Linked DNA regions of Homo sapiens. The protein of the gene in region 1 purifies or fractionates together with the protein of each later gene. This does not show direct contact. Each region holds a gene or a part of one and is shown on either strand. Other genes may lie near its edges.

Evidence for each region.
Region 2: the proteins of FCRL5 (region 1) and ACP3 purify together in Homo sapiens (affinity purification with mass spectrometry; one large-scale study listed by BioGRID and IntAct). This does not show direct contact.

Annotation. Positions count from the first base shown.
Region 1 is NC_000001.11:157,542,467-157,546,283, forward strand, and holds part of FCRL5 (Fc receptor-like protein 5 isoform 1 precursor), read right to left. Parts: intron 2,617-3,817; coding exon 2,365-2,616; intron 2,081-2,364; coding exon 1,796-2,080; intron 672-1,795; coding exon 393-671; intron 1-392. UniProt on the Homo sapiens protein: Plays an important role in B-cell response to antigen that acts both as a negative or positive coreceptor.
Region 2 is NC_000003.12:132,355,317-132,359,568, reverse strand, and holds the end of ACP3 (prostatic acid phosphatase isoform PAP precursor), read right to left. Parts: intron 2,884-4,252; coding exon 2,691-2,883; 3' UTR 728-2,690; downstream 1-727. UniProt on the Homo sapiens protein: A non-specific tyrosine phosphatase that dephosphorylates a diverse number of substrates under acidic conditions (pH 4-6) including alkyl, aryl, and acyl orthophosphate monoesters and phosphorylated proteins.

The DNA.
Region 1 (3,817 bases):
TGTCTGATATTAACAGAACAGGAGATACCTCTGTGCTCCTGGAAATTGAGTCTGTGTCTACTGAGAATAATATAGTGAATGAAAATCAGTCATCTGGGGAGCCACAGGACAAGTGGAAAGCACAAGAAAAGCACTTGGCTTCTCAGAAATTGGGAACCAGGGGATAGAAAGCCACTGCACCATCAGGCAGGGGTATAAGGGCACCTAGACTGCAATGCAACGAGACTCAAGAGGCAGACAGCTGGTTCAGTGAGCCGGAGAGTGGAGGAGGACATTAGGTTTTCCCAAGAAAGAAACTGAGGATACTGGAAGGTATATGCTGACTTCCGAAGGGCAGGGTGAGGCAGGACTCTTGGCCAGGGGTGGGTGATTGGCAGGAATGCAGGGCTTACCAGTGACTGAGAGGCTCACAGCCTTACTGGGCTTGGCGCCAAGGCCATTGTCAGCTGTGCAGTAGTAGTTCCCTGAATTCTCTGTAGTCAGTGAGAAGCTGATGGATGCTCCCCTTTCACAGCGGACTGACTTGTGCCTCAGGGGGACACCCTCATGATAAAACCTGTACAAAGTGCGCAGAGAATCTTCCTGGGTTTCACAGTGAAGTGTCACCTTGGTTCCCTCAAAATTCAGAGCCTTTTCAGGGCTGAGAGTGAGGACAGGATGAGATGCAGGGACTGAGCAAGAGAAAAAATTAGTCAAGAATTGCTTTTGCCTCTTACTGTAGATTACAAGGCATGGCCAGTGCAAATGCCCAGTCTCCAGTCTCCACCCTTAACTTGCTGCCATCAGAACCACACACCCTTACCTGCACCTGCTTCTTGCTCCTTCCTTCTGCCCTATGACTATGGAATGTTGCACCTGAAGTGCCCAATTATTCTGAGTCTTCTTTCCTATCCCTGTTTATTTCTCCTTCACTTGCATTGGCCTCAGGGATTTATTTGCCATTGCTAGTTTTTCCTTAAAGATTAGCATAGTCTTCTAGAGCTTTTTCTTCTGCTCCTACTCTCTCCCTTGGCCCAGACTGACCTTCTTTATTTACAGGTGAGAAAACTGAGTCAAGGAGAGACTAGGAGACCTGCCTGTGTAGGCTGTTTTCAGGGCCAGCCAGGGCCAGAGTTGGTGTCCTGACTCCTAGTCTGGTGATGATCACATTGCCTCCTTATAAGTGAGCCCGGAGTTTGCCATGAGTGGAGGGATGACACAGGGCTCTACAGAAGCTGTTTTTCCCTCATCACTGTAACTACCATAATAGCTTTGAAGGAAGGATGGTGCTGTATACTAGTAAGGGAGGTGATGTAATCTGGGGTGCATATTTGTACTCATAACTAGGGAATGGTAAACCTCCAGAGTCACATATTTGGAGTAACTATAATGTTGCAACCTGTCTTTGTATCCTACAGAAATTTTCACTTTGGTTATTGTCAATAAGTAATGTTAATTGGGACAACAGATACCTCTGTACACCAGAGTCAGAGAGCTATGCCACAGCCCATGGCTTATCCCTATGGGCCTAGAAGAAAAAAAAATGATGTCAGGGAAGAGAACCCTGCGAGAGAAAAGAAAGAATTGTATTTAATGGCATTGAAAGAAAAAAAATTAGACCTTTCTTTTCTTGGATTTTCCTGGGTCTAAGCTCTTCTAAGATGTTCACAAGAGTAGAGGTCTCTTTGCTTGCACAACTCCCATTCTCACAGGTACGAGTTTTTTCTACAGAGACTGGTGACCCACGCTGATATGCAGCCCTGTCCCACTTTTCCAGCCCTCTCTGCAGCAAATCTCAGGTTCCACCAACACTTACTCTGCACCTGTATCCAGGATCTCGGGCTGTCAGATATGACGCTGTAAGGCATTGTTGCTGCCTTACACCAGTAGAACCCTGAATCTTTACTCCACATGGCAGTAATCTGGAAATTCGGGGAGAGACTCCAGCCTAATCCCAGGGTCTGGTCATCTCTGAAGAAGCGGAACCGGAGCGGGACATCTGACCTCTCTAGAGAGAGCTGGGTCTCACAGGTCAGGGTCACTGGGTTCCCGCTGATGGGCTGGAAGGAGCTGGCTCTCAGCACTGGACGTGTAAATGGCTCTAGAGAGAAGAATCACAACAGTCCCAGAGCAATGAGGCTGGAACTGCTTTGGAGAAAAGCACACTTCAAGCAGCAGCACATCCAAAAGCAGGCAAAGAAAGGAATGCCATTGATCCCTAGCTTCCTTCAGCCCAAAACACTACTATACTTCCTCTGCTCCTTGCAGGAATGTGTCCTGTGGTTTAGTGGTATTCCAGTCCACCCTTTTCCTCCTGTTCTATCTCTATGACCCCAAGGAATCTCCTTTTGACCAACTCACTTCACAAAATAATGAAGGCTTTACCTTGGACTTGGATTTTGACTGTATTGGAAGAAACAGGGCAACAACTTTCCTTATATCCAGTACAGCGATATGCACCATTGTCCTTGAGACATGCATGAGGAATATGGAAGTCAGTTCTTTTATTAAGGAATGCCAGGACATTATCATTCTTGTAAATAGTATTATTCAGTGTTACTTCCGCCTTTGCCCGGCACCTCAGAACCACAGAGTCTCCTTCAAACACAGAAAGTGGAGCTTGCAGGATCAGCGAAGCTATGAGAAACACAATAGAGTTATTTGGTTCATCCTACTGTTTCCCCTTTCTTTTCATTGTTTTTCCAAGTAGATTTTATTTTAAAAAAATGGGTTGGGAAAAAGAACTCTTAAAATAATTATCATTTCTTTTTTTCTGATTTAAAAATGAACACATACACCTTAAGAAAAGTTGAAAAGCAGAAATGTAGGTAAAATCACCTACCATCTCACCACCCATGTTTTGGCATATGTTTTTCCAGTTTTCTCTTCCACTTTCAAGTACTTGGAGCTCATGCGTATTTCTTTTATGGAATAATATTAATATTTGTAGATTTGATAACTTTCCTTTCACTTACTATGCTATGAACACTTTCCTACATCATTAGTATCATTATTGAACCTGATTTTTAATGTTTGCGGTTTTCCTTCACTGGCAGTAATGTAATTTCTTTAATGAGTTTTTTTTTTTTTTTTTTTTTTTTGAGACGGAGTCTCACTCTTTCACCCAGGCAGGACTGCAGTGGTGCTATCTCGGCTCACTGCAAGCTCCATCTCCCGGGTTCATGCCATTCTCCTGCCTCAGCCTCCCGAGTAGCTGGGACTACAGGCACCCGCCACCAAGCCCGGCTAATTTTTTGTATTTTTAGTAGAGACGGGGTTTCATAGTGTTAGCCAGGATGGTCTCAATCTCCTGACCTCGTGATCCACCCGCCTTGGCCTTCCAAAGTGCTGGGATTACAGGCGTAAGCCACCGCGCCTGGCCAGGTATTCTTTTTCTAAACCATGTTAAGGTCTGCCATTTTCAGGGATGGACATCTGTGATTGTTTCAGTAGGCAAATTCTTAAGAGACGGATTGTTAAGTCAAAGAGTATAAACATTTTTGTTTATTCCTTGCTAGTACACTGCTTCCACTACATTAAAAAATGATGTAACTTCAACTTCAAAACAGGTGGCTTTAGGACAAGGAAGGAAATGTCTCTTCCTTTATCTTTCTTTCTCTGTATATTTATCTACCTATGCATTATCTACCCATAAGTATGAACAATTCTCCTGCCACTTATTATTCCAAGTAAATAATGTGACTTAAAACTATACATAGAGGCCGGGTGCAGTGGCTCATACCTGTAATCCCAGCGCTTTGAGAGGCCTAGGTGAGCAGATCACTTGAGCCCAGGAGTTCAACATTAGCCTGGGCAGCATGAGGAAATCCCATCTCTG
Region 2 (4,252 bases), on another chromosome or scaffold:
TAGACAAGAGTAGGGTCAGGGGAAAAGGTAACAAATTTATTTATTTATTTATTTATTTATTTAGACAGAGTCTCGCTCTGTTGCCCAGGCTGGAGTGCAGTGGCGCGATCTCGGCTCACTGCAAGTTCCGCTTCCCGGGTTCACGCCATTCTCCTGCCTCAGCCTCCCGAGTAGCTGGGACTACAGGTGCCCGCCACCATGCCCGGCTTTTTGTATTTTTAGTAGAGATGGGGTTTCACCGTGTTAGCCAGGATGGTCTCAATCTCCTGACCTTGTGATCCGCCCACCTTGGCCTCCCAAAGTGCTGGGATTACAGGCCTGAGCCACCTCGCCTGGCCTCAAACTGATTTTACGTGGTACAGTTGCTACCTTCTGCAGAAAGCCTTTCCTGACCTTCCTTACTTCCCCTACTCCAAATCTGGATAACTCTTGTTCCCACAGTAATCTGTGTAGTCATAAGACATAGCCCTGGTTTTTCCATGTTGTACAGTATGTATCTCTTTACTTCCCTAGTATATTGTGCACTTCCTGAGGGTGTTTCCTTAGCAAATTCCATCTTAAATAGATGAGGCAGAGCCATCCACAGCTTCACCTTTATCTGAAGTGGTAAAGTCCAAACTATATTTTCAATGTAAAATGTTCATTTAAGCCAGTCAAATCATTTTACTTTATATTAATATTTTCCATCTTGTTATACTAAAACAAAAACCCCAAACACAAAGGGAGCTCCTGAAATCTGCCTAGAGGAATTTTATTCTAATTAAACACACACACATACGTTTTTCTAAGTTCATTATAAAAGCAATGCTTTTGAACTTCCTAATAATGACTTTATTCACTATTTTACATTTGGCTCACTGCTAGAAGACAGTTACAAGCATAGAAAATGGACCCAAGGACAAACATTTACTTGGGAGGGAAATAACACAAAGAAGCATATCAATCGATGTCTTTGTCAGTCATTCTGTGACCAACCAGGAGCGGGGATGGCTTTGCTCTAGATTCTGGCAGCCAGTAGAAACCATCTCTAGAAACCATCTCATCTTTATCCATAATGGTAATAGAGCACAGTGTTCTCTAGACATGTAGATCTGCCACATGGCAAAGCTATATCATGATTTCTTCTTGCAGAGTGGGCAGTTTCAGCAGGACCTGTAAGTTTGCTTAGGTTTTCTGAAGATATCGGCATTAAAGACTTACACATTCCTTTTGTCCTCCTAACGTATTTCGTAACCACACTCTCAACATTCCAATAAGTTTTGAACTTGGAGGCACTTAGAACATAATTACATTTCTAATTTTGTTTCAGTTTGATATGTGTCCCTTCCTTCCTTTTTTTGGTAGAGACAGTGTCTCACTATGTTGACCAGGCTGGTCTTGAACACACCAGGCCTAAAGTGATCCTCCTGCCTCAGCCTTCCAAAATGCAAGGATTACAGGTGTGAGCCACTGTGCCTGGCCTATACTTCCTTTCTTAATCAACTTTGTTTTTATTTATTTATTTATTTATTTATTTATTTATTTATTTATTTATTGAGACAGGGTCTCGCTCTCTTGCCCTGGCTGGAGTACAGTAGTGCACTCTTGGCTCACTGTAGCCTCGACCTCCGGGGCTCAAGTGATCCTCCTGCCTTAGCCCCACAAGTAGTGGGACTATAGGCACACACCACCATGCCCATCTAAGTTTTTGTATTTTATGTAGAGACCAGGTTTCACCATGTTGCCCAGGCTGATCTTGACCTCCTGAGCTCAAGTGATCTGCCCACCTCGGACTCCCAAAATGCTGGGATTATAGGCGTAAACCACCATGCCTGGCCTTAAATCAACTTTAGAGTCAACATCTCTTATCACTGGAGCTTCTAGAGAAACTCCATCACGTGGTGCTCTCTTTCCTGATGTGTTGTGCCCAAATAGCTTGTTCTCATCAGATGACTTATTTGCTATGATATATATACTTCAAGAGCTGCTATATGTATTACATACATCAAATCTTTCTGTAAAGTTTGATTTTTGTTTCTTTAAAAGGAACATAAATGTTCCAGGACCAAGGGACACAAAGAGGTTTTAATTTTTAGTTCTGTAGCCTCATATATTTTAACAGAAATATAAAAACAGATAGTAGCAGTTTTCCAGTGGAGAAAACTTTCCAGATGTCTCCACTGTATCTCCTTTCTTTGCCTCTCCTTGAGAGAAGGCTGGAACTGATGGGTAAATTGGTTTTTTGCCCATCAGCCTATTCACATCTTTCCTTCCTTGTTCCCATCCTAGATTGTGGGGTTTTTTTTTGAAATCTGTTCCATTTCAGACATTTAAAGAACAGCCTTATCTAATCCTGCTCAAGCAAAATCTCAGAATCCTTAAATACAAAAGATCCTGTGTGGCCAGTCATATAGTTCATGGGAACTCTATGAACTTTGACCTAAGCTTTATCTCTGATTATATTTTGGCACTGCTGCCCCTTTACATTAACGCTGAAAAACAAAACAAAACTTAGCTAAGTTTTATGGCAAGTGGGGGCAGGGTCAGGTGAAGAGGTAGGAATTGCCTGAGGTTGGGGGTCCCTAAAACATAAAATAATCATCCAAAGCCCATTTTCCTCAAAGCTGGGGGTAATGGCCAAAGTATGTTCTCAAAGCATCATCTGCCCTGAGAAAGGGCAGCTACTCCTTCTACAGAGATCTCTGTGCACACTAATCTGTACTGTCTTCAGTACCTTGATGGCTGTTTGTGGTCATACACTCCGTGGACCAGTCTTGAGGGATCACAGGGCCAACCAGCTCAGCAAACCTCTCCAGAGGACAGCTGGGGCTGCAGCCAGGTAGCATGAGGGGATACGGCTCGTGCTGCGTCTCATTCCGATAGTACATCTCCACAAAGTACTCCCTGGCAGACAAAGGCAGAGGAGAGAGCTCTGTTAGTTCTGTGTTGTTGAACTGCCACTGAATTTCTTTCCACTTGGACTATTACATGCCAGTTGAGGGACTAATGGAAAAACTTATGGGGAGATTTTAGCCAATTTAGGTGTGTAAATGGGGAGACTGGGGCAGGCGGGAGAGATTTGCAGGGTGGAAATGGGAGGGCTGGTTTGTTAGATGAACAGGGACATAGGAGGTAGGCACCAGGATGCTAAATCAGAGGAGGTGGTGAGAAGTGATGGTTGCAGGGAGCTGGGTGGGACTTTGAGCCTTTGGATAAGAAGTGGGAGGCAGGTGGGGGTGTTGGGTTTTCCTTCTCCTCCTCCCTTCTTTTTAGGCTTCTCATTTGCTCCTTTTTTTCTTTTTCTGTTTTCCTACTTGAGTATTTCTTTCAGTCCTCTTTCTGAATGTATCTCCCCTCTCCTTAACTAGGCTATAAACATGGAACTGAATAATATATAACATATGTGCTTGAATATACAGCAAGACTTTATCAGAAAATTATCCCTCAGAACAAAGATGTGGGTATGTGTTCCAGTCCTTCCATTGTGTCACGTTAAGGAGAGCTCTCTCAATGCTTTATCTCAAAAAAACAATGTACTATTTGGGAAGGTCCAATGGTGTAAACTAACCTGAGTTAAACCAGCGTGAGTTGCTTATGGAAGCCATTTGCTAATCAAGGAGTCAGGAGGGGAACTCAAGAAGGATTTAGAGATCCTTCTTTTGGTGTAACCTTACAATGGCTACTTTTGGTTGTCATTATAAACAAGCCTTTTAAAACATCACTTTAAAAAGCCATATAAACATAGTAACAGCAAATATTCACTTATGTCTATAAGGCTGGGCGCAGTGGCTCACGCCTGTAATCCCAGCACTTTGGGAGGTCGAGGCGGGTGGATCACGAGGTCAGGAGATCGAGACCATCCTGGCTAACACGGTGAAACCCCGTCTCTACTAAAAATACAAAAATTAGCTGGGTGTGGTGGCACATGCCTATAGTCCCAGCTATTTGGGAGGCTGGGGCGGGAGAATCACTTGAACCTGGGAGGTGGAGGTTGCAGTTAGCCGAGATCACGCCACTACACTCTAGCCTGGGCAACAGAGCGAGACTCCATCTCAAAAATAAAATAAAATAAAATAAAAATAAAATAAAATAAAATAAAATAAGATAAAATAAAATAAGATGTCTATAAAACTTACAAAAACCTCCCTAATATGTATTATGAATGGGTACTTATATCTTGGAATAACTTTTTCAGTAACAGCATCTTCTGTCTTAAGATGATATGGCCTAGATGACCAATACTCCATCAAACTCTGTTATTCTCTTTCCATAG